Regions from separate parts of the Homo sapiens genome. Here regions 1, 3 and 4 are each linked to region 2. Evidence: fine-mapped QTL for protein levels in blood plasma. A gene starts in region 2. Each other region holds a variant in brackets. All regions are shown on one strand. Distances are between the middles of the regions.

Region 1 (7,984 bases), 13 kb before region 2:
CTTGGCCACCCACACCATTACACACCAACCAAGATGGCTTTTGTACATCTTCAGTACTCTTGTCTTCTAAAACTGACCCAATCATGGCTAACTGCATAAATCCCTGCAATCTGGGACAACTCACTGAAGAGAGGCTCTAATACCAGCATGGTATGTTATACAGTTGATGCCATTGCTTGGAGTCCTTTCACAATTGTTACTTAGTGCAGTTCCCAGGATCTTTATAGAATTCAGACGTTCACGTTTCAGTGCCGTCTAAATAGAGTGCCCTTGAAGTCACTCTAAATACCGGTTTCTCCATTCCACCAGCCTCTCGGACATTATAAGGAGACGTCCTGCACACTTTTTAGAAAGAGCAGCACTGGGTCTACATCTGCCCTAAAAGACGGAGAGCTGGAGAACCTTCTGCTTACTGTAGTGTTTACTACTAAGCTGTCGAGGATGCAGGCGAAAAGGAAAAGGAAAAAATGTTTCTGGAAAATTGAGATTTATGAATGTTTCCTTGGTGCTTCCAAAAATGCCAGCAAATGGCAGAAATTGGTCCAAAAGTTCACGAATTTAAATGCTGTCATCTTTGACATTCCAACACTGGTCTCACTCATGTGGGCCAAAAAGTGTTTGATGAGGCTCGAACATCCCAATCCAGTCACCACTAAAGATACAAGGAACATCTCTATGGTAGCCAGACTTAAACTCAATTCCAAATCTTCCAACCTTCAAAGGCTCATACTTTGTCTTACTTCTTGCCATTTCTGAATGCCGCGCCAGTCGTCCGGGCTGAAAACCGTGTTGTACACCCGGAGATCTGACCCCATCATTCACCGTAGCTGCTTTAAAACCGCATCTAGAAGGCAGTGTCTGCCTCTGCCTGTTCCAAATGTCCATTAAAAAGGCCTTAAGAATCTGTCCTCCTGGACGTCTTCGCAAAATATCTTTGAGAAAATCAATGGGTAGTGGAGTTGTTTAACCAAATCAACCTGTCCCCCGTCGCGGGTGTCGTTAGCCGCTGGGCTGTTGGGCAGCCCCAAAGCCAGCGTCTGGTCCCTGCCGCTCCTGGGCTCTGGGAGGCTCCCAGCAGCCGAAGGGCGGGATGCTCACTGCGCAGGCGCGAGCCTCGGCGGCAACCCGGGTACACATGTTACTTTTTTTTTGTTTTTGTGAGGAAGCCCTTTGTGTTTATGATTAGTGTTCTCTATTAAATATTTCTGATTCTCCTCCTAGGCGTGTGACAGTATATTATTTGACTATCTTTAGTGTCAGATGAGGCAATGTAATTTTCTTTGGCCAATGAAGTATGGGCAGAATGATGTTTATTGTATCCACACAGACTTCTAGGAGTCAGCGCGAAATTTACCAATAACTCTTTCCCTCCGCCGCAGTGAAGGCTGGCGTTCAACGTGGTGCCCGTTCCATCAGCCCGGGTCTTGAAGTGAGGACAACTTGGAGTAGAGACCCCAGTGGAGTACTACGATGCACTTTTAGTTCTAAGCCACTGAAAATCGGGAAGTGCTCATTACCACAGCATATCCTGGCCTGGTCTGAGTGATACTGCATTTTACAAGGTTCAGTCCTGAACCATCTTCTTTTATCTCTGCAATCTTCCCATATAAACTTACCTATTCCCATGGCTTGACTGATGCCGCCAAACACCCACAGTTTTATCTACTTTGTTTTGAGCTCCAGATTCCTCCATCTAATGGCCTACTAATGCCTTTAGTTGGTTAACTTACAAGAATTTCTATATTTAAAAGGTGAGGTGATTCCTACTGAATCTTAACTTTCTCCCACAAAACTGCTTCTCTTTCAGCCTTCCCCTGACTCTGTTGAAGCTGCTGTGATCCAAGAATTTGTTCAAGCCGGTAATCTAGGAATTATTCTTAATACCTTCCTTTTTTCTCAGAACTCTATCTAGTTTATCATGAAATCTGAATGATGTTGAAATATATATCAGGGCTGGGTATGGTGGCTCAACCTGTAGTCCCAGCACATTGGGAGGTTGAGGTAGATGGATTGCTTGAGCCCTGGAGTTCCCAATCATCCTGGGCAACATGGCAAAAGCCTGTCTCTACCAAAAGTACAAAAATTAGTTGGGAGTGGTGGTGCACACCTGCAGTCCCAGCTACTCAGGAGGCTGAGGTGGGAGGATTTCCTAAGCCCGGGAGATCAAGGCTTCAGTGAGCTGTGGTTGTTGCACCACTGCACTCCAGCCTGGGTGACAGGGCCAAAAATAAAATAAAAATAAAAATAAAAAAAATCCAGTCATGTCTCTCAATCTACCCAGAGGTCCCCTGTCCCTACCACCCTTCCCTGTCATTTTTAACCTGTTCCAACTTTTGTCGTCACTTCCTTCCAACTCTCTCCAGCTAAAGTAATCATTCAAAAATATAATGGCTGGCATAACTTATCTGTTTAAGACTCACTCGATGAATCTACAATGCACTAAAAGTGAAATACAACTCTTTAGTATACTGTAAAGACATTGGATGATTTGATTGTGTCTACCTGTCTAATATCTTATTCCACCCCTACTCTCCAACATGCCAATAGGCACTCATCTTTCAGTTCCTTGAACATGCCAAGGACTTTTATTTTTTTAAACCCACTGGGCCTCAACACTAATTTGCATTTTCTTTCCTTAGAGTAGTCTAAATCCTCCTACCCATTCACCCACCTGGCCATTTGGATTTAGATGCTTTGTTTTTAACATTATTTTCCCAGAGAGACTTTCTCTAATAACCAAACTTTAACAGATAACCCTTCCTCCAACAGTACTCTTCTTTACAGCTTTGTCGTTTCTCTAATAACAGCTTTATAATTTGTAGTTATACATTAATTTATGTTCTTTCATTTGATTTCTTTCTCTCACCAGACAAAACTCAATGAAATTGAGTTAAATGTATTTTCTTCACTGTTTCATACTTTGCAACTATGACAAAGTCTGGCATTAAAATTAGTCAATAAAAGAAGGAACAAGTTTCTATAGTGTTGTCAGTATGGTGTAAGCATGTAACTTCGTGATGGTAAATCTGTCACAAAATTGGCATGTGCACATGCACTGTTATCACTCAGGGGTTTCCATGTACAAAATGGTAGCAAGAGAGTATTCTAACAGGAGGGTGAGGGTGAGGGGGAG[A/C]TGAGAAATTTAGTCTCTAGAGCAAGAAAGGAATCCCACTGAAGAAAGATTTGGGTTAAAACAAGAGGTGAGTGGACTCCAAACTAGTTTTATTTCCCCACCTGTAAAATTGGAAAGTCTATTAAATAATATGCAGGTTCCCAGGCTCTAACATTCTAGAGTTCCATTTCTCCATTTTGTTTTGATCCTGCCTAGATACAGGACAACTGTTGATTTACCTCTTTCTTTGTTAGGTGTGTAAGGAACACTTACAATATCTGTGAGATGAAAAGAAAGATCCTGTTGGTGCAGAGAATAGGAGAGGGTATGTGACAGCCACATGACTAATTTATAGAGTGTGTGTTCCTACCACACCTACTGGCAGACTATCTGTCAAATAATCAGTCCCCAGTATGATCAGGGTATTGAACATGAATTGTTCTAGAAAGTAAGGAACAGGCCCAAAATAAAACTTTTTATTGAGGAAGTAATAACACATCTATGAAAATACATTCTCTCACCTATTGCACATGAGTATTTCTTAATTCTGTTCAGTGCAATTCAAAAGCAAGTGAAGAATTCCAGAAACATTCTTCATGACACATGCAGATATCTGCAAGGCTCATCTTCTTCAGTCACAGAACATGCAGGAAAAATTAACCATTTTGGCTCATAATACATTAGATGAATAATTATTAGATTTATTAAAAACACCCATATCTGTCTTCCCCCTATCTCGCCTAGCAATGTAACCAGCTGTTACTCTTTAATATGTGTGTCACCATCCTGGCATTGGGGTCAAACTCAAACTGTGATGATCCACTGAAGAAGTAGAAAAATCCTGTAAATATAGATAAGGAAAATGATGAGACATCTTCAAATATGTCATTTTGCAACACATATAACTTAGATTAAGTACAAGTTAATAATGGAGGGCATTTATTAAGTGATTACTCTATGCCAAGCACTGAGCTAAGTGCTTTACATGCTTTATCTCAATTACCCTTACAAAAAACTGTGATGTGTTATTAATGAGAACAAAACTAAAAATTAAGACGGTTTTGTAATTTTAACAAGGTAGCATCTGTAAGGAAGGAAGGAGGGAGGACTCCATCTCATCTGACTCCAAAGGAAGTGCTCTAAAACATTACGTCATACTGGTTCTAAAGAGATAAAATTCTATAATATTTTAAAACCTTGTTTTACTTTCTTTCCAACCTCCCCTCTTCTGCTAGGTTCTAAATTACAGTTTGGGAGACAACTAGACCCAAGAGAATCAGACAAATGATAAATGAGCCAGAGGTCCATTTCCTGCTTTGCATCCATCATGGTTAAGTCATTTTAGTAACAAGATCATCAGCCTCATGACCATTGGATTGTCAAGCACTGGCAGCTCCCTCCAAAATTCCTTCAGAGTAATCAAGAACAAGTTTTGCTTTCCTATTTGCCCATTACCAGGAATCACATTTGACCTATTTTGAGCATATGGGAGGACTAGTATTTTATTTACAAATGACTAATGCAGGCAATCGCAGACTGCAACAGAAGCCCAGACAAGGCTCCCCTGGGGTGGGATAGAAGAAAAGGGACAACAGGATGGGATAGAGTAGAATGACAACCAGCCATCAGTAAGCCTGGCTCACACAGATTGTATTTTTATACCAACATAGTGACCTGAAAGATAATGGCTTCTGTGTGAGGAAGTATCCTTTGATTTTATGTGCGGATATGAAACAGAGACTAGGAAGTTATTCAGGAAAACACACACACACACACACACACACACACACAAATTTAAACCCACTTTGCATAAATTGGAAAGTTAAGATTTTCAGGAATTTGGAGTAAAAAAGATATCAGACTGAATGATTTAAAAACTGTTTTGATTCTGCACTTTATTTTGAAATCATAAAAATGCCTGGAGATTCCTGCATGACAATGAAATAAGGGTCTTCTTACCAAATGCCTGTAATACAGCATCAACCTTAGGCTCAACTCCTGGAAAGTCATCAGCTATTAGTCTAGGGAAGCCTTGCTCCATGGACTGGCTATTTTCATCAAATCTAAACCAAATGAAAGAAATACAGTTCAATGATGTGCAGTAGTCCCATTACACACAATAGTATAATGTGATGTTAATTTTCCAGTGTGGAATCCTAGACAAACTTTTTAAGTTGTGTAAAAAAGTGTTAAACATTTTTAGAGCTACAAGAATAGGTTACTTTCCTGGGCTTACAAGTTTAACACATAAAACAATATTTTCCAGAAACAGGAACATTATGCCATTTTACAGAGGTTCCATACATATGTCTGAGGTAAATTTTCTAAGCCTGGACACACAGAAACCAAATTTCCCTGTGTCTACTATAAATACATAAAGACTGTGTAGACATAATGAATTCATAATGCAAAATTAATTAAATCACTTAGCTAAAAATAAACCTCTGGTTCTCAGTCACACTGGGACCCTGTAGATCCTGTCTCCAAAGCCTGCCACACCTGGGCTTCCTATGGCAGCCACATGGTGACTGGAAATGGAATAAGAGGTGAATGCCTTTGGACCTCAGCTGGCCTCTCCTGATGTCTTTTAGTGTCTGAGTATATGGCCCAGTGATCACCATTCTGAGAGGCCTTTGTATCCGGAAGGTAGAACAATAAGCTGTCTTCCTCATAATCATAAATTTTGAAGTTAGAGAAAGTTAGAGGGTGGGTGTAGGGTAGGGAAATATCCTTAAAGAAAGAAAATAATTTTCTTAATCAGGCTTCATAGAAAGTCATTTCTCTTGCATCTCACCTCCAGTATTTGTCCGCTGCAAAGAAGTATGTTTTCTTCTTTTCCTTGTCAGAAACAGCTGCATCAATTTTCCTTATGGTTGGAGGAAAACCCAGGGTATGGATGCCTCTTGGATAACCTGCTTGTACCTCATTTCCTCTGATGGCCCAGAACTCATTTCCTATTGAAAAAATAAATCCAAGACATTTTACTTGAAGCCATTGATTTTAAAAATAATTATAGTGCATTGTTGTGGTAAAGAGGAAGGCTTGGTTTTAATTCCAACCTAATAATGTCCAGTTCACAGCCAGTCCTTAATAAATACTCCCTGAATGAGCGAGTGAATGAATGAATGAATAAATGAGTAGATAACTCTGATTCACTGCCCTTTCTGTGTCTTATATATTTGTATCTATATGTTATAGTTTATTTATAGATCAGTTTTAGTTATTTCTTATAATTGTTGGTAAACTTTTAACCTGAATTTCTCACCTAGACCTCTCTCTCTTAAGTTTCATACCAATAGATCAGTTGCTTATTGGACACTTCCTTTGAGATATTTCACAGTCACCAATTCCAATCTGTGCTTCTTGTGAACACTATCGGAATTCATTCAAATTCTAGTGAGTTAGGACAATAAAATCCCATCAATCTCTCTGCATTTACTTTGTTACATCACTCTCCCAGACCCCAAGCCTGAATTCCTTCTTCGCACTCACTGCCAGATTCACTAATCTAAAATGTCCATCTGTTGTTTATCTCTCTTGCTTCGTCTGAACCGAATGACTTGTATCTGTCTGAGCAGTTCCAGATATGCTCTTACTTGGTAAAAACAATTTCTTCTTTCTTAAAGACCTTTCTACTTTCTGTACACCCAGCCCATCTCTGCACAACAATAGAGAACTTTAAGACCCATCCTAACATCACCTCCCCTAAGGGATCTTTGCTGAGTCCTGGGTATGAGTCAGGTGCTCCCATGGCACCCTTCCTTCTCTCAGTCCCAGCACTTGTCATATGTAGGCTGCCAAAGGCTTCATCTCTGCTGCCCCTTCTAGAATATGAGCCCTTTTCAGTCCTGACCTCCACCAATGAGAATGGCGTCTGACACAGTGCAAGTGATATGTAAATGTGAGATACATTACTTGATAACAATACGTTAGAGTTATGTAATCCTTTACAATTTCTACTGCAATTTCACATTCATTTGATCTTCACATAAGTGAGATTGCCAGAAATAAATATTTTTAAAATCTCCATAAAGCTTGACATTTAAAAATATTCCATTATCACCTATGAGTCTAGGGAAAAAATAAAAATGAGAAATTAAAGAATTAAAATTGAACAAAATGAAAATACTGCATATCGAAATTTGCTGGATGAAACAGAAGAAATGGTTATTTATAGGTATAAATGCTTGTATTAGAAAAGAAAAAAGTTACAAGTTAATAAGGTAAGTATCAAACTTAAGCTATAACAATAATAACAGGATCAATTCAAAGTAAACAAAAATTAAGGCAACAATAAAGATATGAACAGAAACTAATTAAACGGGAAATCAAAATATAATATAGAGAGTAAATAAAGCCAAAAGTCAGTCCTTTGAAAAGATCAGTAAAATTATTACATATATTATGAGATTGATGAAGAAAAAAGAGAAAGGCAAAAGGATTCAGTATTAAGAATGAAAAAGAAAACAAAACTTCAGCAATAATTCAAATTACAACAAAATAATTTTCCAAAAACTTTTTCTGATGGATTTGAAAACAGACAAAATTGGCAAATTTTTAGAAAAACATGTTAACAAAACTGACTCAAGAAGTAATAGAAACTCTAATAGCATATTACCAATAAAACAAATTGAAACAGTAGTTTAAAAGTCTGATAAAGAAGCCTCTATACCTGAATATCTCCATTAGTTAATTTATCTCTCCCTGCACTGATACTACATCTTACCGATTAAAGTTTTATAACACAGGGCTTTTCTCCTCATCTAATAAGATGGGTTCACCAGGAGCATCCTGGCTATTCTTGGCCTTTCCTCTGCCATATAAATTGTAAAACTAATTTGTCAAGTTCCATGAAAAATCTTTTGGCATTTG
Region 2 (7,737 bases):
AAATTTTTAAATTTTATTGCAATGTTAGTTTGCTAGTCAAGTAAGGAATTGGGGATTGAAAATTCAAGTCTAGCATTATTTTTGTTAGTTTTTAAAGAAACCCTCTTTTAACATAGTTTTGTGAAAAGTTAGAATACTAACCTTTTCTACTTACATTGTTATTATAGACCTGGTTTAAGACTGAAGTGTGGTAAACTCTTTTGTCCAAATATGACAAGTAAAAATATGAAAACTATTACCTGATATGATTTAAAGATCAAACTTAGCATGCTCCCCTCCCCAATAATTTTAACTAAATAAATTCTAAAGCCAGAGGAGTTTCATATATTCTCCATATGTTCTTTTCACTTAGCCACAAATATACTGCTACTATTTTATTGTAACCTTGAGCAGTTATATTCCCTTTCTGAACCTTTCTTTTCTTCTCTGTTAACATAAAAATAATTTCCACCTCCAGCCTGTTAATTATTCTCTGATGCTACAGTTTTCTAACAAAGTGATCTCTAGTCTAATCATTCTGCTTTGTATTGGAAGACCAAGTAGACACAATTGAGCTGGCCAGTAGCTGCAATAGATGCCACCGTTAATTACCTGGGCAAGATCCTTGTTGGAGTCCTCCTCTTTTGCTGCCCCACTCAGAGGATAGGCAGAGCAGACTGGCAGACACAACAGCACAAGGAATGCAAGATGCATCATTCTCACTGCCCTTACCTTCTTTGTCTACTGGGCTTCTAGCTCTACCCCCTAGTGGCCTTTCTTTTATACAGAGACAATGCTGAGATCACCAACAGTATGATTCATGCATGTGTTTTTTAAGTCTGAATGTTCACAAACATTTAATGTAATGGTGATACAGCCTACATCAGTATTTTCCTTCAACTTTCTAAACTTGAAAGAATGATTAATCCCCAGGAAATGATTTCTGTGTTTGTAAAGACGAAAAAGAATTGGCTAGATAATTCACGTCTCTGTATTTACTTAAAGAGAGCTGACAAGCTTGGTAAAATGCCAAATGTTTTGACATTTTAAAATCAGTGCAATTTTCTTTTAAGAAGATTATGTTTTAAACTTAAATATAAGCAGGTAAGAATTAAGTAGGTCAACGGAAATAAATTCCAAATATAGTCGTGGTCTAAATGTGGGAGTTGTTATTTACAAAGATATTAAAACAAATATTTCACTTCTTGAGTCCTTGTTTACAATAGCTATTATTGATTTTCAGATGGATTTACTGGCCGTGGAGTAGGGGTATTGTGAGAAGGACATGGAGCATGTAGAGAAAAGAATCCAAAGAGAGAAGCTTTGGTGTTCACTCATTCTCCATTTCCCAGTGTATAATTATGTTCAAAGTAACTGCTCCATAAAACTTGTTAAATGGAAAAAATTAAATTGCATGTTAGACTGAAATGGTCCTCCTACCCTCTTCCTCTTCTTTGCTTTTAAAAATTCTTTTCCCCCTTTCTTTCTCCTCTTAAGGTACAAAGGAGGAGATGGATTGAGATCTGTAATGGGAAATGATTTCAAATCCTCCCTTTCTTTCACATGTCTAACGATCCACCCCTGCCCACAAATAGTATTTTCTTTCTTGTTTTCTCAGCCAAATAAAGTGCTTTTTACGCAGTAACACAGTAAGTCTGCAATAACTGTTTTGTCAAATTAACCTGTTAATATAAAGAACCCTGAAATTCTTATAGTAAAGAACTATATTTTTCTCTCACTAAAGATAAATTAACTCTACCATGTCTGAAGTACATAATTGCAAAGTGATGAGAGATTAAAATAATAAGTGTGTAGGAATGATCTTTTCAGTATCGCCCACCATCCCCACCCTACTTAAGGTAGCCTGGACAGGTGAGACTTCCAGGAACCAAGAGGCTCTGAGACTTCCAAGCCAGAGTTGGAGAGAAACTGGGATATACACTGAGCCAGCCAAGTCAACTTGTGACTTACTGTTGCCAAAGAGTTTGCTCTACAGTGTGGTGACATCAGCTTGAATATCAGAGGGAGAAGGACTGACAACTAGACTCAAATAAAGTCAGCTGGACATTGAGCAAGTACAGTCAGGCACTGTATAATGTTTCAGTCAACAATGGACCACATATATGATGGTGGTCCCATATGATTATAATGGAGCTTGATATGGTTTGGATCTGTGTCCCTGCCCAAATCTCATGTCGAACTGTCATTCCCAGTGTTGGAGGTGAAGCCTGGTGGGAGGTGATTGGATCACGGGGGCGGATTTCTCATGCCCATTTAGCACCATCCCATCGGTGATGTTCTTGTCATAGTGAGTGAGTGAGTTATCATGAGATCTGGATGTTTAAAAGTGTGTAGCACCTAGCCCCTCTCTTTCTTCTCCTGCTCTGGCCATGTAAAGTGCAGGCTCCTCTTTTGCCTTCCGCCATGATTGTAAGTTTCCTGAGGCCTCCCCAGAAGAAGGTGCCACCATGGTTCTCATATAGCCTGCAGAACCGTGAACCAATTAAATCTCTTTTCTTTATAAGTTACCCAGTCTCAGGTATTTTTGATAGCAATGCAAGAACAAACTAATACAGAGCTGATAAGCACCCATCAGCTATTGTCATTGTAGCCAACATAATGTCATAGTACAATACATTACCCATGTGTTTGTGATGATGCTGGTGTAAGCAAACCTACTGTGCTGCCATACGAAAGTCTAGCACATGCAATTGTGTACAGTACATAATTCTTGATAATAGTGATAAATGACTGTTTATGCATTTACTATACATTTTATCATTTATTTTAGAGTGTACCTTTTTTTTAAAAGTTAACTGTAAAACTGCTTCAGGCAGGTCCTTCAGAAGGCATTCCATGGTTACTGCCCTATGCAGGCATTATTATCATAGGAAACGACAGCTGCATCAGCGTTACTGCCCTGAAAGACCTTCTAGTGGAACTTGATGTGAAGGTAGAAAACAGTGATATTGATGATCCTGATCCTGTGTAGGCCTGGGCTAATTCGTGTTTTGTGTCTTCATTCTCAAAAAATAGTTTAAAAAATAAAAAAAATTAAAGATAGTAGAAAGCTTATAGGATAAGGATATCAAGAAAAAAATATTTTTGTACCTCTGTGAAACGTTTGTGTTTAACCTAAGTGTTATTACAAAAGAGTCAAAAAAAGTTTTAAATTAAAAAGTTTATAAAGTAAAAAAGTTACTACAGTAAGCTAAGGTTAATTTATATTGATGAAAGAAAAATGCTTTTATAAATTTAGTGTAGTCTAGGCATACAATGTTCATAAAGTCTACATAGTGTACAGATTCACTCACCACTCACTCACTGACTCACTTAGAGCAACTTCCAGTCTGGCAAGCTTCATTCCTGGTTAGTGCCCTATATAGTTGTACCATTTTTTATCTTTAATACCATCTTTTTATTGTATTTTTTAATGTTAAAATATGTGTAGATACAGTAATATTTATTATTATGTTACAATTGCCTCCAGTATTCAGTAGAATTTCATGCTGTATAGGTTTGTAGCCTAGGAGTAATAGGCTTGCTGGGCATGGTGGCTGACACCTCTACTCTCAGCTACTTGGAAGGCTGAGATGGGAGGATAACTTTCCCCAAGAAATTTTTAAAAGGCTATACCACATAGTCTAGGCATGTAGTAGGCTGTACCATAGAGGTTTGTGTAAGTTTAATCCATGGTGTTTGCACAATGGATAAATTGCCTAAGGACATGTTTCTTAGAATGTGTCCCCATTGTTAAGTCACACATGACTGTGTGTAATTAATTCAGGCCATTATTTTGTCATCTGTAAAATGGGGTGGATATAACCACACTCACAAAGTTATTTTGTATGCTTTATGCTGGGGAACAAATCTCTTCTTATTTCACTCCAACACCTTTAACAGACAAAGCTTGTTGGCCTGACAAATCTGTGACAATGCCCCTAGGCCCTGATTTGACAAGCTGTGAGATGCCCATTTTCGCTTGAGTCATAACTTTATTAGTGTTGACACATCCTGTTAATGGATTTTATTATGTGGTAATGATACAATGAAAGTTTACATTGTAGTAATAGCTACGACTATAATTGGGAGCCTATAGGGTAGCACATGCCTCACAGAAATGATGTTAGTGTTTAAACTTGTCCTGCATTAAACCATGACACCTGGTAGAAATTAATGCCCTGGAGCAGGTGAGTCCTATGTTTGTCTTTATATAATTCATTACTTGTTAAACCTACTGAAGTATGTATAGGGTCAGGCAAGGAAGCATACAGAGCTCATACTTAAAGAAAGGTGAAACGCCTGGTATTGAGCTTCCACTGTAGTCAGTTCTTAAATGTGAGTTATTTTTAAACTTCAGAACAACCCAACAAAGTTGAGATTAGAAAAATTGAATAATAAGCTCACGATCAAAAGCTAACAAGTGGGAAGAGATTATTCAGAACTGCCAGAAGAAACCTTCATGACTACAACTTGGATGTTTATCAAAAACTTCTTGGCTTCATTCCATATCTTTGCTATTGTGAATAGTGCTGCGATTAACATACAAGTACAGGTATCTTTTTGACATAATGATTTCTTTTCCTTTGGGTGGATATCCAGTAGTGGGATTGCTGGGTTGAATGGTAGTTCTATTTTTTTGGTCTTTGAGAAATCCTCATACTGTTTGGAATACTATGCAGCCATAAAAAGAATGACGTAATGTCTTTAGCAGTAACATGGATGGAAGTGGAGGTCATTACGTTATGTGAAATAACTTAGAAACAGAAAGTCAAATACTGCATGTTCTGATTTACAAGTGGGAGCTAAATAATGTGTACACATGGATATACTGTGTGGAATAATAGACACTGGGCACTCAAGAGGGTGGGAGGGAAAAGAGGGATGAGAAATTATCTAATGGGGGCACAATGTCTTCTGTTCCAGTGAGAGTTACACTAAAAGCTCAGACTTCAACACTATGCAATATATCCATGTGACAAAACTGCACTTGTACCCCCCAAATATATTTAAAATAATAGTAATAACAAAAGTTTTAAAACAACCTCTTGGCTTGGACCTTGGTTCTTCCCCAGCTTTTTTTCTTTTATGTCTTGACACTGTTCTTTATCTCTCATTCTTTTTTTTTTTTTTTTTTTGAGACAGAGTCTCACTCTGTCTCCCAGGCTGGAGCGCAGTGGCGCAATTTCAGCTCACTGCCAGCTCTGCCTCCTGGGTTCACACCATTCTCCTGCCTCAGCCTCCCGAGTAGCTGGGACTACAGGCGCCCGCCACCACGCCCAGCTAATTTTCTGTATTTTTAGTAGAGACAGGGTTTCACCGTGTTAGCCAGGATGGTCTCGATCTCCTGATCTCATGATCCGCCCGCCTCGGCCTCCCAAAGTGCTGGGATTACAGGCATGAGCCACCGCGCCTGGCCTATCTCTCATTCTTGAACTCACCCCTGAACATGCCTTCAATTTATCTCCTTAGCTTTTGTTCTTTTCTCCCAACTCTCTGATCATCCTGCTAACACAGCTACTTCATTTGATCTATGTTTATCTGTTCTGTCACTTGAAGTTCCTCTTGGCCTGTGCTGCACTGATGTGATCCAGACAGAATGCAGGTCTACAATCCATTGCAATTTCAGTAACTAAGACTGAGAAATGCCTAACGGTTTCTCACTTCCAGTTTATTCAATTCTTGGGAAAACTGGTTAGCTATTAATTTTCAATACCCAAAGACCTCTGATTTTAAGGTTGTACACTTATACATATAATCCTGCGTCAACCATGGCATGACATTGACTTCAGTATTTTGCAACTTCTTCTTTTGTTGGAAATTACTGGTTTTTACACAGACTCATAACAAGTGAAAAGTTGATCTCTTTCCCATGCTTTTAGTTCCAATTTGACTGCTTCACAATGGGAACACAGTTTATTGTTAGATTTATATTCATTCTTTTCTCTATTCTGATAGTTTAGTCAAATATTGCAGGCCACTTGTGCTTGCTATAGAAAATACTATCAATGGAAGGAGGCAAAGTATCAAAGTAGGGGTTAGACGGACCTCAGAATCATGACTTCAGTGTTGTGAATATTAGAAAGCATAATTTTATGTTGTGTCCTATAATGGCCATTATTATTTTAACAATACCTAAACACATAAAATAATGCTCTATGAATGCAGTTACTGTATTTCCAATGTGTAGGAGATACAGTAACAATGTGTTAGGTTAGTTGCTCTGTTGATTCCTTGGTGCAGTGGGCTTTTCTGGTGGGAAGACCCTCAGTGAGGAGGAAAGAAGCACTGAAGAAAAATTCTGGCTGTAGGGGAATATGCGAAAGAAAAGGGCAATTATCATTTGTTGAATATTTTCAACATGACAGGCACTGTGCTAGGTGATCTAACCTCTTCTATCTTTACGACAATCCTGGAAGTTAGTATTATTTTCCCTTTACCATAGAAAGGAAACGAAGATTCAGAATGGTCAAGATCACAAAGAGTTGAGTGGCAGAGCAGATCTTGCAGCTTTGCACTGCAATTCATTGGCCAGAACACTGCCCCTTTAAGACATATGGGCTAGGTCTGGAAAAAAGCTACTACTTCCCCTTAGAGTGGTGTTTGGGGTTAAATTCTCTAAAAGGATTCAAACTGGAAGGCTAGAGCCTCGTTTAAAACCCAAACAAAACCCAAACAAGCAAAACCCCTACTTTCTAGTGCATTTGTGGGCTCAAAGACAGCAGGGGAAATCTCTAAACACTCCTCTTGAATCACTCTGTATCATGTTTCTGAGGCTGTGTTAATTTGCTCTAGTAAAGAAATCATGTCTGAAATAGTAGCTGTGATGATAATTACCCACTAGGTAAGTTACCTGCTAGGTAGTTACCCACTAGGTAAGGCCACCGTCATGATGTATTGGGTTTATGCAAGGGCTCCAAGGATTCATTGAGTGAGGCTGTGAGAGGATTACCCTCCTTGTTGCTTTTAAAACTCTGATAGTGTAACCAGTCTGTGCAATCCTCCCAGGATGTGACATTGGTTTTTTGCTGCTTTTGGTTTACTATTTTGGCCAGAGTTTAGGAGGAGCAGTTTCAGGGGCTACTAGTTGGCCCTTCCTACCATAAAGATCTTATTCCAGAAGTCAGGGAACAACCACAAGATGGTCTGTGGGCCCGCTGGGCCCACTGTGAGATGACCTTGAGTCAGAACCCTATTTATCACTTTCCCTCATATACCTCCTTTCTAAACTGGAAGGCCTTAATACCATGTTGGGACCTCTGATACCAGCTCAGTTCAGATCTGGTATCCAACTGTCCTTGCCAAATCTGAGTACTCTTCTTCCCCAGTGCACGGTTACCCTGGTGGATGGCCATAGGTACCTTTATGAGGATAATTTAAAAGACATATGTAATCCTTGGTATGTAGTGGCATCACAGTTACTAAGATGTGTGTGTGTGTGTGTGTGTGTGAGAGAGAGAGAGAGAGATAGAGAGAGGGAGAGAGAGAGAGACTAGGTCCCCTTGAAGGAGGATTTCTGTCTCCATATATACACATACATATATATATACACACACACATACATATATGTATGTTTTTTATGATTTTTGTATACATATTATAACATATACATATTATGCATGTTTTATATTATTTGTACATACATATGATAAGTATGATTTGTATATACATATGTATATGTATATATAGTATATGTGTGTATATAAATGGAGAGATATATGTATGCATGTGTACATACATATGTATATATATGTATAT
Region 3 (7,984 bases), 54 kb before region 2:
TATGTAAAGAGTGTATTTGAGATGCTATGATAAGGAGTTCTGATCTTTCCTGAGGTCACTTAGGAACTTTGAAAATGATCCAAAGAAAGGTGTCTTGGGTTAGAACATATCTGGACAGCAGATTAATGTTAATGATGTATATTCCTACATTCATTCAGTAAACATTTCCTGTCATCTACTACATGCCACATGCTGTGATGGGTGCTAGAGTATTGGAGATAAATTAATAGAGGTTTGGATAAAATGCTGTGGGTGTTTGGAGGAAACAGCAGTGGTGTGGAGGGAGTGAAATCAAGGAAGGTTTCATGAGGGAGGTGGAATTTGAACCGGATCATGAAGAGGTAGAATGTAGACATGCAGAGATGTAGCAACCCATTCTTTGTATTAATATAAATGTGACAGCTTCCTGCCAAATTGTTCAAAGATCACGGTCATGTTCATCCTCCTTGAGTTCATGGCTTAATGTGGCTTTCTTTACATTAGGTCTTTGGTGAAAAAATGCTTTTTCCTCCACGAAAATGCCTTAACATTGGTCTAACTCTATGTTGAGTTATTTTGATGCAATGGCTTGCTTACAAGGTTTATAAATGTACTTTCTTCTGAACATAACAGCAAGTGATTTAGTTGAGAATCTAAAACTTCGGTAAACTTAGTTTTTGGTGTTTGGGTAAATGCTATGTTAAAAAATTGAACGGTTGGGTCTGGATTCCCCCAACAGGCCCAGCCCTGGTGCAGTGGTGGAGAAGGCTATACTGCATTTGCTTTCAGGGCTCCAGCTTGTGCCTTCTGAATCCTTTCTCCACACCTGACCACTGTCTACCTCCGTGGTGTCTGTGCCTCACCTGCTTCTGGTCCCTGGGACTGAGTTCTCTCAGGCTCTCTCCCCCAAAAATCAAATCAGTCATTTACACTTCAGTGCGAACAGGAGTTGTTCGCCTGTTGAGTAGATATCTTGCTAGAAAAAACAAACAAGCCAACAAAGTTTTAAAAATGAAGGTATTGTTCATTATAACATGAGTTTCAGGGCAAGTTAAGAAGAAGAAAGAAATTTAGTTTGCCCAGAAAACTCACAAGGCAATGTAGGCTCTTTCTGCCTCTCTATTACTAGCCTCCCTCCTGCCCCTTCGGCAGCAGCCTATTCTCATAAGGATAAGGATATTCTTATAAGGATAAGGATATAGATGTGGGTTCTACAGCAACATAGCAGGTGTATTTTTATAGTTCAGTTTTGCTTTCTAGGCCCGAGGAGATGACACAGATTGCATAGATATAGTCTATTTGTTTTTTAGTTATAAAATAAAGGATGAGTTGAACCAGCTGGGGTGAGCACATGTGCCTGAATCTTGAATGATGAGTAGGAGTTGCCAATGGGGAATGTGATCCAGTAGAAGGAACAGCGTCCGCTAAGCACAGAATTATACCCAGTGAAGCCGTGGCTCATTTGATTCACATAAGCCAAGGCAAAATGTCCTCAGCTTCATGCCTTTCTGAACTCTCATGATCAGAATGGATGTCCATATACCCTGATCAAGTTAACAGAACAATTGTTAGGGCCAGTTGTGGTGAAAGGTAAAGAGCATTTGGGTGGAAATTAAACTTACTGGGTTCAAATTACAGTCCTGCCACTTCCCACTTATGCAACTTTTGGCAAATCTAAGTTCTTCTGAGGTTCAATTTCCACACCTGTGAAACTAGTGCATTAACATCTCCCTCATAGGGCATCAAGGGTATTAGATGAGATCATACATGGAAAAAGTCTGTGTAAACCCTTCACTGTGCTGTTCTCTTTGTATTATGAATGTGGTGAAATTATAGCCACATTAGTTCATGCGTCCGTTCTGTGAATGAGTTAGAAATGCTGAAAATTTCTTCTTTTCCAGAAAGAGAAGTGCTTCTAAGTTAAGCCACCAAGTGAAGTAACTTCCATGGAGCTTCCTTTAGTAGCCAGTGTTCAAGTTCAGCCAGGGAACATATGTGTGTGACTCACATCCTTTGCACAGAGTATAAATGTATACACTCAGATCTCACAAGTCATTATGGATTAATCACTGTGCTAAGTCTTAGATATGCAGCATCTATTACCTTCCTTAAGCTTCATAACAACCCAGAGAAGTGGGAGTTATTATCCCCATTTTAAAGAAGAAAACAGATTCAGAGATATGATTCAAATTTACCTTTTCATTGACTCTTCCTAAAATCTCCTTTGTTCTCTCAATGAGGAAAAAATTTTTAAAAGTGATTATTCTCAGTCTTGGCACTACATCAGAATCTATATTAAACATACAAGTAGGCTTCTTTTATGAACTAAATGTTGTGTCCCCCAACCCCAAATTTACATGTTGAAATCCTAACTCCCAGTGTGACGGTATTAGGAGGTGGGGCCTTAAGGAGGTGAGGCCTCATGAGTGGGATTAGTGCCCTTATAAAAGAGACCCCAGAGAACTCTCTTTCTGTCTTTCCACCAAGTGAGGATCCAATGAAAAGTTGGCAGTCTGCAGCCCAGAAGAGGGCCCTCACCAGAACCTAACCATGTTAGCAGGCTGATCTGACTTCCGTCCTCCAGAACTGTGAGAAATAATGTATTTCTGTTGTTTATAAGCCACTCAGTCTATGATATCTTATTTGGCAGCCAGAATGGACTGAGCTCCACTCCAGCTACTGAATCAGAATCTCTGGGGTGGGGCCCAGGTATACACAAGTTTAGAAAGCATCCCAGGTAACAATGAGGATGAGTTGAGAATCTCTATTGTAAGAGAGGATGGAGAATATACAATAAGAGAAGTAAAGAGTCATGTTTTAAGATTTTAAAAAAGGAAAAATCATATTCTATTGGGGAGATCCACAAAGTCTTTGTAGGGGAAGTGGACACTGAGATAAACTTTGAAAGGTGGATTGAATTTTGGCATTGAAATTAAGTTAAATGAGGGTGGGATTAGAAGCAAAAAGCAAAGGTATTGTGGTAAGAAATCTTGGATTGTAAGTGAAGAATAACAAGGGTCTGGGGGAATCAGCATAGAGCATATAAAGAGAAGCAGCTTGGAATGGTAGGCTAGAACCAGATAGTGGAGGGGCAGGAATTAAACATCAAAAGGCCAGCAATGAGCAGACATTGTTTGTTTCTGAGCCATGTAACAATCTATGCTGACTTAATAAAACTAACCGGGCCATAGTATCTAGGATAGACTGGACTGAAGAGAGGTTATAAATAAGAAGAACAATTAAAAGGTGGAGTAAGAGTTTAAGTGAAAGGTCGTGAGGACCTGGCCCTAGCGGGTGGTCATGGGTCTTACTCTTGGTGTGGGGATGGATGGTGAAGAAATGAGGTTGAAGAAGACAGGAGGGAACCTGGGTCATCACACCACACATCTCCAAGGAGCAGCAATTCGCATCACAGATACACACAGATAAAATAAAAGTTGCCTTAAGGCCGGGTGCGGTGGCTCACGTCTGCAATCCCAGCACTTTGGGAGGCTGAGGCAGGCAGATCACCGGAGGCTGGGAGTTCGAGACCAGCCTGACCAACATGGAGGAACCTCGTCTCTACTGAAAATACAAAATAAGCTGGGCATGGTGGCACGTGCATGTAATCCCAGTTACTTGGGAGGCTGAGTCAGGAGAATTGCTGGAACCCGGGAGGCAGAGGTTGTGGTGAGCCGAGATCGTGCCATTGCACTCCAGCCTGGGCGACAAGAGCGAAACTCTGTCTCAAAAAAAAAAAAAACAAAAAAAA[C/A]AAAAACAGAGTTGTCTTGAGAGTCAAAGAGTTCTCTTGAGGATGACAGATGGAATCAAGGCTAAGGCTGGAGCTGAAGGAAGTGGAGACTTAGAGAAGCCGTGGTAGTGAATTCAACCCACAGATGAGGCTGATTAAAAGGCCTGCTGAGCAGCCGCCATGGTCCAGGCAAGTGAGAGAGTAGCTAGAGTGAGCATGGAGGATCTTATCCTTATGGTTTTGATTAGCCCCAAACATTTCCATTTCTGCCCCTGTATCTATTGTCCTCCCAACTAGAGGGTGTTGAGGATAAGAAAGAATGGAGAAAATGACCCATTGAGAGTCAACGACTGTCCAGAAACTAGTTTGACAGACCCACGAGAACAGATGGCAGAAAAGTAAACATTTCCATTCCAGGCCGCTCTGTGTATGTAGAGGCAGGAAACTGCGAAGTGGATTTTGCCAAAACTCTCTTTTCTACTAAATCAATCCAGCTGTGTGGCTGGAATGCCTCATTTTTCATTTTTCCTGAGGCACTGTCTTTTCTAAATCTTCTCCATTCTTGATTTTCTAACAATGTCTAGCTATAGCAAGGTATTACTTCCCACTTTAAGTAAATGCCCTCGTTTTCTCTCATTTTTACCACCAAAATATTCAATTTCTTAGTGTGTCCATGGGACTCTTTCTGTATCTCCACACCAGAACTATTCTCCTTACACATTCCCCCGCTATTTCCTTTCCCTCACTGGCTGCTTCCTGTTTGCCTACATGGTTTCTCTAGTAAAACAAAATAAAACCAAACAACAGACTTCTTTCTACCCTATTAATCACTTGAGTTACCATCCTGTTTCCTTTCCCTCACTGTCAAACTTCTTGGAAGCCCAGTCAGTGCCTCTACTCCTTCAAACCACACACCCGCTCCTCCTCACACCACACACCTACTACTCACACCACACACCTGCTCTTCCTCACACTACACACCCAATCCTCACACCACACACCTGCTCTTCCTCACACTACACACCCAATCCTCACACCACACACCTGCTCCTCTTCACACCACACACCCACTCCTCACACCACTCACTCCTCACACCACACACCCGCTCCTCCTCACACCACACATCCACTCCTCACACCACACAACCGCTCCTCACACCACAAACCCGCTCCTTCTCACACCACACACCGGCTCTTTCTCACACCACACACCTGCTTCTCCTCACACCACACACCCACTCCTCACACCACACACCTGCTCCTCCTCACACCACACACCCACTCCTCACACCACACACCCGCTCCTCACACCACGCACCCACTCCTCACACCGCACACCTGCTCCTCTTCACACCACGCACCCACTCCTCACACCACACACCTGCTCCTCCTCACACCACACACCCACTCCTCACACCACACACCTGCTCCTCCTCACACCACACACCCAATCCTCACACCACACACCTGCTCCTCCTCACATCACACACCTGCTCCTCACACCACACATCTGGCTCCCATCCCCCTTGGAGCCCAACCAGCTGTCACCCACATACGCCTGTTGGAGTCTGTGAGAATTCATCTCAATAAACTGTCTCACATCTATATAGTCCCCACTAGATTCTGTTCTCACTCCTCTTGATCAATGGTTCTCAACCTGAATTTATTTTTTAACCTAAAATATCAGAAAGACACCACATATGCCCTTTGGTGACATTGGCTTGTCAGGGGCAGTGGATTAGTTTTCCGCAGCTGCTGTAACATATAACCACACGTCCAATGGCTCAAAACAAGATAAATTCATTGCCTTACGATTCTGCAGGTCAGAAGTCTGGTATGGGTCTCACTGGGCTAAAATCAATATGTTAGCAGTGCTGTGTTCCTTCTGGGAGCTATAGAGGAGAATCAGTTTCTGTGTTGTTTCCAGCTTCTAGAGGCTATTGCATCCCTTGGCCTGTATTTCCACCTCTGCCATCTTCAAAACCAGCAATATCACTTCTCTCTAACCCTTATTCCATCTTCTTGTCTCTCCCTGATCACAGTTGGGGGAGGGTCTCCACTTGTGAGGACTCAGGTGATTTGATTGGACCCACTGAGATAATGCTAATCTCCCATTTCAAGGTCCTTAACCCAAATCACACCTGTGAAACCTCTTTTGCCATGTAAGCTAACATGTTCACGGGTCAGGATGTGGGCATTTTTGGGACCATTGATCTTTCTGTTACAGGCAATAATTCTCAATGAGAAGAGATGGAGGTAGTCAGTAAATGTGTAGACTGACTGCACAGGGAAGGGCACTTCAGGATCTGTGGTCTGCATGTGATTTGAAAAGCCCTTTAGGAGACCATGCCCTATAACTCCAGGATAACCTGCACCCACCCTGTTCTCCATTTTGACTTTCCATGCCAAGAATATGTGAGTATTTACTGAATACTCATTAGAAGTGAGGTACTGTCATAAAGGCTTTTGCAAAGTCACTTTTATGTAAATTTCTTAGGTATTACGTCTTTTAAAAGCAATACAGAAACTGAGGATCAGAAAGGTTAAGTGAATTACCTGAGATCACACACTGGCAGATGTGTAATGTGTGGCAGAATTTGGGAATCCAAGTTTGGTTTAATTCCAAGGCTCTTTCTGTTCAGTCTCCACAAAGTCTTCTACTGGAGTTGACCTTCTGCCTGAGTAGCTTCTTTAGTTTAAATGTCACATTAAGGTCATTATGGGAACTTTCTGACTCTTTCTTCCTCCAAATTCTACAGATGTGGTTGCCTCATACATCAGGACCAAACATCAGAGGAACCTGAAGTGACAAGCCCGAGGTACTCACAGACAGCCTGTTTCTCTTTAGCATGGGGAATGGAAATCCGAAGACCTGGGTTTGACTCCACTCTATCATTTGCTTGACCTTGCACAAGTTCCTTCATCTCTCTGTCTTAATTGCACATCCCTAATTGGCCACTTATTACTGTGGGACCCTAGACACAGTTCACTTCACATCCCTAAGTTTTAATTCCTTGCGTGTAAAATGGTGGTAACAATAGCCCTGACATCATAGGAATGTTGTGAAGATTAAATATGGATGTGTAGAAAATGTTTAACACAGAGTGCAAAATAACAGATAAAAATTACAGTTCTCTGGCAATTAAATATAAAAAAAAGCCTCACAGGATAGGAGCACTTTCTATATTGCTATATTGTTTTACGTTCTTATTTCAAAGCCGTGGGCTTTAAGGAGGTAATGCACGAAAAGCAATATAGAAAGTGTTGTTCAAACGATTTATTTTATTTTAAAAATCACTTATTTTTAAATAGTCTAGTAATACAAAAATACATGCTTATTAAAAAAAAAATTCCAAACTTTCAGAAGTACGGTAAGTAAATGTGAAGTTTTCTAACCCCCTTTCCCCCTACTTCAGTCCCCTCTTCTAGAGGTAACCAATGTTAACATTTTGAAATGTCTCCATCCAGATATTTTTCTATGGCTTAATGCTCCCAGAGTAAGCTGGTGTATAGCAGACGCAACCAGTGGCCTTCAATGAAGTCACGGATGGCTGAGACCTGTCACTCTTAGCCATGCTAGTGGTCATCATGCCCCCTGTAAAACCAGCAGAGGGCGCCAAAGTCCACTGGGGTATTCGGAGGGTGAACTGTTCGGTCAGATCAACAGTCTTCTTCGAAATAAGAATGTAAAACAAATAGATCCCATTTATCTCATTTAGTAAGGATGAGCCCAGGTTTTGAACTAGGTAGGTTAGTGGGAGAACTGGACATTAAAGACTTGGCCAAAGCTCATTAAAATGAATAGTTTGCTTTAGGTGAGAATGCAGAATGAGAAACTCCACAGTGGTCACAATGTTCCTAAGCACATTATTTTGTCCTCTGTTAACAGATCTTAATGCCAGGTTGTGGGTGGCAGTTTTAGCTTACTTGATAAGGGCTATCACATTCTAAGTGTCAGTTCACCAACAATGGCCATCCAGGCGGTGGCTAGCTTCCCGCTCTCACAAATAGTTCTGTATTGGCTGCCCTACAAGTCTCCTGGGGATCACAGTCAGAATGAATACTTACAAGTGGGACTACTGGGGTTAGAATACAGGTATTCTTATGATACAGCCAGATTTTGCTTCACAATGGTTGCACCAATTAACAGTTCTGCCCGCTGTAAATAAGGGTTCATATTCCCCATGTTTTTATCAGCACTTAATATAACCAGAACTTCTAATTTCTGCCATTTTTGGTAGGTATAAGTAGGTATCTTTTTTACATTGGTATTCC
Region 4 (6,331 bases), 57 kb after region 2:
ATCCTCTTACCAAATTCTTCAAAAACAGCATCAATCTTTGAGTCAATCCCTGGAAAGTCTTCAGCTATTTGCTTGGGAAAGCCTGGCTCCATGGAATTTCTCTTCTCATCAAATCTGTACCAAGTAAAAGAAACAGCTCAGCATTGCATAGAGGCCATGTTACCGAACATCTTAGATCATGTTAGGTTTAATGTGGAATTTTACTAAACTTTATAAATACTGCAAATAAATGCCAAGCATATTTGGGACTATAGAAATATGTGACTTTAATGGTACTGTAAAGAGTTCTGAAAGCCATATCTCCATCCGGAACAGGGGCCGCATCCTGCTGTATGTAGCACATGCTGTTTGTCATCATATTTCTTAAGCCTGGACAGAAAGAACCTTAATCATCTTTCTGTCACAAAGACATGAAAGTGTGAACATATATATAAAGTGAATTGAATCAACATCTAAAATGCAATTTTAATTCCCTACCACAATTGGCCCATATATGCCTGCTGTCCCCTCCCCTGCACATCTAAATCTTCTCTGGTGGCCTCCTGGGAAAAGGGATTAGGATAAGAAGCAAAGCACAGTAAGTGTGTTTTTAGCCCATTGGCTGGATATCAGATGGTCGGCCTCGATGTCTCAAAGTCTGGCCAAATGACCCAGGAATCAACCTGTCTGTGAGTGTTGGGTTGTATCCATAAACTGGACTGCTATTGATCATCATCTCTTAAATGAGCCATCATTATCAGGTAGAGGTGACAAGTGGGTGAGGTTAGAGGTAGCCCTTGAAAATCATATAGTAGTGTTAGGAAGACAAAACAAACACACAATGAGACAGTGACAAACACACAGTGAGACAGTGAGCCAAACTAAAAGACAATGGGAAGGGAACGCTAAATTGCGGTCTGGGTTCTCAGAACATTTTCCCAATGGGTCTAAAGTCCACGAGGGAAAGCTGCATGGAGGTGATGAGACTTGAGCCAGGACTTGAAGGATGGGCAAGATTTGAATAGGTTGAGGAGAGAAGAGGGGGCTCCAGGCAGGTGGGGTGACAGCACCAAGGGAAGCACCAGCCAACTGCACTTGGGACTGAAAGCAGGAGAGCCTAAGGTGCTGCTGTTTTAAAGTAAGAACTTTCCCACAGTTGTCTGAAGTCCCATCCTTCCTACTAAGAGAGAAGCAGGCCTAAGGTTGGGGTGGGGGATTTCCTTAGTAAAAGAAACTAATTTCCCTAATTAGGCTCCATACAAAGTCATTTCTCTTGCATCTCACCTCCAGTATTTGTCCTCTACAAAGAAATATGTTTTGTTCTTTTCCTTATCAGAAATGGCTGCATCGATTTTCCTCACGGTTGGAGGGAAACCTAGGGTGTGGATGCCTCTTGGGTATCCAGCTCGTACCTCATTTCCTCTGATAGCCCAGAATTGATTTCCTGTTAAATATAAATAATTCAGAGTCATATTGAATTATAACAGTTAAGCCCTTTCGCTTTAGAAATACACTTTAGCATCTTTGATTTTCATGGTAAAGTAGTAGCCCAAATTTTAGATTTAGTCACCAGCTTACAGTGGGCTTTTCACAAAAATTTGCAGACTGAATGAATGAACTAAGGTCAAATGAGAGAATTTACAACTCTGGGTAATTTATCTTCTTGTCTTTATTTTTATCATCTATGAAATATAAATACAATGATATCAGCCCTGGTTATTTCTTCATTACCGTTGACTACTGTATTAGCCAGAACTTGTAGTAGGGAAAATTAAAGTGTTGTTCAATTTCTTATGAGAGGGTTTACTTTGGCAAGTTAAACAAATGATGATATAGTAATTACCTTTAAAAATGAAAACGAGGTCCTTGCTAGTAACTTCATATGCGGCATCCACGCCTGAAGGAAGAGATGGCCAAAATGAAGAGATCAAATGCAATTCAGGTTCAAGCTTCCTGAGGGATTTGCGCCAAAAGTGCCTAAAATATATGTAAAAAGAAATGTAAATTGAAAAACAATCTTTCACCTTTAGAATATTTTCCTCACCGTCTTGCCTCACCCAGCTTCCCCCATTCTCTCATCTTCTAGGCTGGATGACAGATAGAAATCAGGTATATTGCCATTAGAAAATTTCTTTCCTTTTTCTTCAGAAGACTGTAGTGAGTCTCCCGTCATAGGTTTCCAGAGTAATGTCTTCTATGAAAGAAAAATTATTCTATCGTGCAAATGAATTAGCCCAGCATAAGCTTTAATTACCTGCAATGTATGCAAAACAGTGCGTGTGCTATACCCTCTTCCAAAAGCTAGGCCGTGTTTGTATACGTGTATGTGCTGTGTAAATATATTCTTGTATGTGTGTAGAAAGATTCTGGAAGGATGCACAAAAAGTCTTGACTCTGGATGAGTACAGGGAGAACTGGGAACTAAAATTTTTAATTTGCTTCTCATTTGTGCTCTTTGAATGTTTGTCATGTGCATATTGATCCATCAGTAAGTAAATTACTTGATTAAATGTAATGTTGATCCTGATGTCATTTTTAAAGGAAGTAAAAATAAAATTATTATTCGAAAGATCTACTCATGCCTTTTGAAAAGTAACTGTGACTTAAGACATTTGGAAACAGCAATTAGAAGCTAAGAACCAGATCAGCCTGTGCCTTCAAAAATGAACCTGACAATTTTAGGAAAATGTGGGAAAAGGCAGCACCAGATCTAAATGATTCCAAGCTCAGAAGAAACGTTTTTGTTTTAAATGTCTAAGAATCTCTATCAAGTTTCTGCGTGTTTTCCTTTCTAAACATTGTAGATTAAAATGGTAGGAAAATATAATTTTTCAGCCTGACCTGTCTTTAAAGATCAGGATTTCTCCCCTCAGAGTGCTGACAGCATCAAAGGACAAAGCAGGATCACAGTTGGCTGGCGTCCCAGGTTCTGGAGGGACAGGTTCCGTGGGTACCAGGGGGGTCTCAGGGGAGTCAGGGGGAGGTCCTAAAGGGAACATTAGGGGAAATGTGATACGTTTCAATATATGCCCATTTGTATGCTTTCCAAACATTCTCACGGTGCTTTGAACTAAATCATAAATACTTTATGTAGCATTTGAAAGCTCTTCTGAAGACCATCATTGCAAAACTACAATGGCTGATTTTCCCAGTGTCACTCACCATAGAGGGACTGAATGCCATTTATATCATCTTGAGACAGGCGGAACCGAGTCAGGTCTGTGAGTGAGTGATAGAGTGGGTACATCAAAGCTTCAGTGTTGGCTGAGTGAAAGAGACCCAGGGAGTGGCCAATTTCATGAGCAGCAACGAGAAATAAATTGGTCCCTATTTAAGAAATTGAGAACAATAGTTACTTATTTTTTAAATACATGTGCATTACACAGGTCTGCTGTGCATTGTATTGGTTTTTACTTCTTGGAACCACACAGGGCTTTTTACACCTTGTTTGTTGGTTAATTGAACAATTGACTAATTACACACTTAATGGAAAGCTAAGTGTATTTTAAAACTCATACCTGTAATCAATCTTTGAGATTGATTTCCCAGTTACATCCACTTGCCCCCCATGGCCCCAAACCCACCCCCAGCCTCACAAGCATATTAACTCCAGAAGAACCAGATCCCTTTTCTTGTACTCAGGAATGGAATGAACCCACTTGCTTAGCATATCAGATATTTACCTTCATTTGTCAATGCAAAGCTAAACACTGTTTTAATATATTTACATTTGCCATTTGCAGTCTCAGTTAAAGGAAACTATATTCATGTTAATTGATAATGTCTCAGCCTCATCATCATGAAGTACATATTGAGACTAAAAACATGAATAATGATAGATGTCATAGGATTTGCAAAATTGGTTTAAAACACAGTATGCCCAATCATGTCTAGCATTTGTCACACAACAGATTTAGAATACATAAACACTGGCTTTATTCAAAATTTTTTCCTTCATATTTTTAAAAACACCCATAATGCTAAAATTGGGAGGCATTGGGTAATTATGATCAATATAGTAAGTAAATCTACCTTACTTTTGCTAGTATTACTTGTGTAACTTGTGATGCTAGGAACAATCTCATTTGAGAGTTTGCAGGAAGGTTTCTTTACAAGAATTCGTTAACTCAACCAATCAAGAATTCTATCCAGGACTAAACTCACATTTGTACGTCCTACAGAGGTTTACATTTTCATTATAAATCCCAGTTAAACCTCAGACATAGTATTAATTGTTTTCCTATTTTTTTAGAAGTAGTGTTAATTGTTTTAGCTGATTTTTTTGAAAACTTTGGATGTCATTCCCCAAAACATACAGTTATGAACTGAGAAACATTCTTCTACCTAAACAGTTTGAACGTTGTATTTGGGAGTTAGTCTTTTCCTTCAGAACAAGCCCATAAAAATTCTTTTAACCTAAAAGTACTAAAATAATGCCTCAGCCAGAAAAAAAAAAAAAAGAGAATCTCAGTTTCTGAAATTTAATTCTTATTTCTGGTTTGAAGAGTAAAGAAGTAAATGGAGGAAATTACATAAGTAACATCCAGAGCACATTTTAATGTAGATTCAGTGCAATATACTATCCCTTGAATGTTTGTATTTTGATATGAGAAATTTTTCTTAATAATGGTTACCCCTAGATCACAAAGATCCAGTCATTAAAGAAATACTTAATGATATTTCCTATATTGTGCTTACCAATATAGGAAAACTGTTAAAGCATCTGAAAATATTTTCAATAATAATTAAAACAAAAATATATTCTGCTGATCTCTGATCCACTGGAAAATCCAGAACATCTCATTTCTTGAGCATTCTTGGTTATTAACAGATTTCTACATATAAAAAAATTAATGCCAAAATCATTCTGAGAGATGTGTAACTAACCTGTTGTATCCTTTGTCCATTGTTCATCATCATCAAAGTGGGCATCTCCATTAATCCCTGGCCCAGGGGCATAGGCATGGGCCAAAACATTTCCAGGTCCATCAAAAGGGTAAAAGTCTCCATGTTCTAGTAGGAAAAAAATTTATTGGAAAGATATGTAA[C/T]AAGGATCCCTTTTGAGCCTTTTCCAGTACAACAACACCAGATAGATGAATGGATACATTTCATGTGTTTTTTGTTTTGTTTTGTTTTGCTTTTTTTTTTTTTTTTTTTTTTTTACCTCTAACTGCAAAAGAGATCATTATATCAGCCTCTCCTTCATACAGCCTGGAGAATGTGAGTGGAGTCACCTCTTCCCAGACTTTCAGAGCTTTCTCAACAGCAGAATCAACAGCATCTTTTGGCAAATCTGGTGTATAATTCACAATCCTGTAGGAGAAAAATTGAAGCAGATGCTATTTTCTCCTATGATATAGTTTATAAAATTCCAATCTTATGTGAAAACCCCTCTGAACCATTACCTGTATGTAAGGTGGGTTTTCCTCCACTTCGGGATGCCAGGAAAGGTTCTGAAGTGACCAACATCAGGAACTCCACACCTGGGCTTGCGCATCACCTCCAGAGTGTCGGAGTCCAGCTTCCCCGTCACCTCCAATCCAAGGAACTTCTGCATTTCTCGGATTTTTTTAACAACAGGACCACTGTCCTTTCTCCTAACAAACTGTTTCACATCTTTTTTGAGGTCGTAGTAGTTTTCTAGATATTTCTAACAGAATAAGTATAGTTTTTAGGTCACTCTTACAATTTTTACTATAGCTATCTATTTATAGTAAGTTTTTGCAGTTGCTCACTTCTTAATCTATTTGGAGTATTTCTCTAGCTTGCTGAAATAATGGCAAATTTTATAATATGATACTAGCAACACAAATATTTAGCTAAAATTACGTTGCATTAAAAAAAAAACTGAAGCTGTTCCAAAGCAAGATATGGTTCATCCACTCTCCACTTGTTACTCATGTGCCTTAAGCCCCAGTGCTGCTACTGCTATGGTGTTGTGTGATCTTAAGAAAACACCTAATATTTCTGGCCTTTGTTTCTTCCTACATAAGAGGAGAAGCCCAAATGGTGTGATAATGAGACCTTTTCCACTTCCAACACTCTATAACTCTCTATTCTTGAACTGTTCCTACACAGTAAGCTCAAGCATTCTATGTGGGTTTTAAGACACACAGAATGGTTTCAGCTTACTCTGGAAGCTCCCCACCTGGCCAGGTCAGTTAGTGTTAATTACCTGAACAAGGTTCATGCTGGTGTCCTCACCCCTTGCAGCTCCATCCAATGGATAGGCTGAGCAAACTGCCACGCACAGCAACAGTAGGATTGGAAGACTCTTCATTTCCACTGGCTTTACTTAGCTCTATGTTGTCTCTATGCCTTGCTGTCTTGCCTGCCTCCTTGTAGGTCCAAC

Alleles and levels. Positions count from the first base shown, and alleles are read on the strand shown. Strength reflects both the effect of a copy and how common the allele is.
For the plasma level of the protein whose gene starts at base 733 in region 2, C is the low allele of the variant in region 1 and A is the other (moderate association).
As copies of A replace C in region 3, the plasma level of the protein whose gene starts at base 733 in region 2 goes down (moderate association).
For the plasma level of the protein whose gene starts at base 733 in region 2, allele C in region 4 goes with a higher level than allele T (moderate association).

The links. PIP is the chance, under the fine-mapping model, that this variant and not a neighbour inherited with it causes the effect. Protein levels are from antibody-based Olink assays in UK Biobank. Linkage for the fine-mapping came from a reference panel and not from the study's own genotypes, which makes the PIPs less certain.
Region 1: its variant is fine-mapped to the plasma level of the MMP10 protein (UK Biobank, PIP above 0.99).
Region 3: its variant is fine-mapped to the plasma level of the MMP10 protein (UK Biobank, PIP above 0.99).
Region 4: its variant is fine-mapped to the plasma level of the MMP10 protein (UK Biobank, PIP above 0.99).

Annotation. Positions count from the first base shown.
Region 1 is chr11:102,766,941-102,774,924 of GRCh38, forward strand. MMP10 (matrix metallopeptidase 10) reads right to left here. Exons shown (of 10, transcript NM_002425.3): 8 at 5,907-6,066; 9 at 5,072-5,175; 10 at 3,562-3,953. The coding sequence ends at 3,853. It also overlaps the pseudogene LOC100421658. Among named protein-coding and RNA genes, the nearest start is that of MMP10, 9.7 kb to the right of the region's middle. The variant A/C (reference allele first, on the strand shown) is at 3,134.
Region 2 is chr11:102,779,896-102,787,632 of GRCh38, forward strand. MMP10 (matrix metallopeptidase 10) reads right to left here and starts at 733. Exons shown (of 10, transcript NM_002425.3): 1 at 592-733. The coding sequence starts at 696. It also overlaps the pseudogene WTAPP1.
Region 3 is chr11:102,726,142-102,734,125 of GRCh38, forward strand. No RefSeq gene overlaps it. Among named protein-coding and RNA genes, the nearest start is that of MMP8, 5.2 kb to the left of the region's middle. RefSeq lists silencers at 7,185-7,234, 7,355-7,404. The variant C/A (reference allele first, on the strand shown) is at 3,731.
Region 4 is chr11:102,837,288-102,843,618 of GRCh38, forward strand. It overlaps MMP3 (matrix metallopeptidase 3), which reads right to left and starts at 6,322. Exons shown (of 10, transcript NM_002422.5): 1 at 6,155-6,322; 2 at 5,385-5,629; 3 at 5,144-5,292; 4 at 4,867-4,992; 5 at 3,142-3,306; 6 at 2,821-2,965; 7 at 1,823-1,956; 8 at 1,264-1,423; 9 at 11-114. The coding sequence starts at 6,259. The variant C/T (reference allele first, on the strand shown) is at 5,028.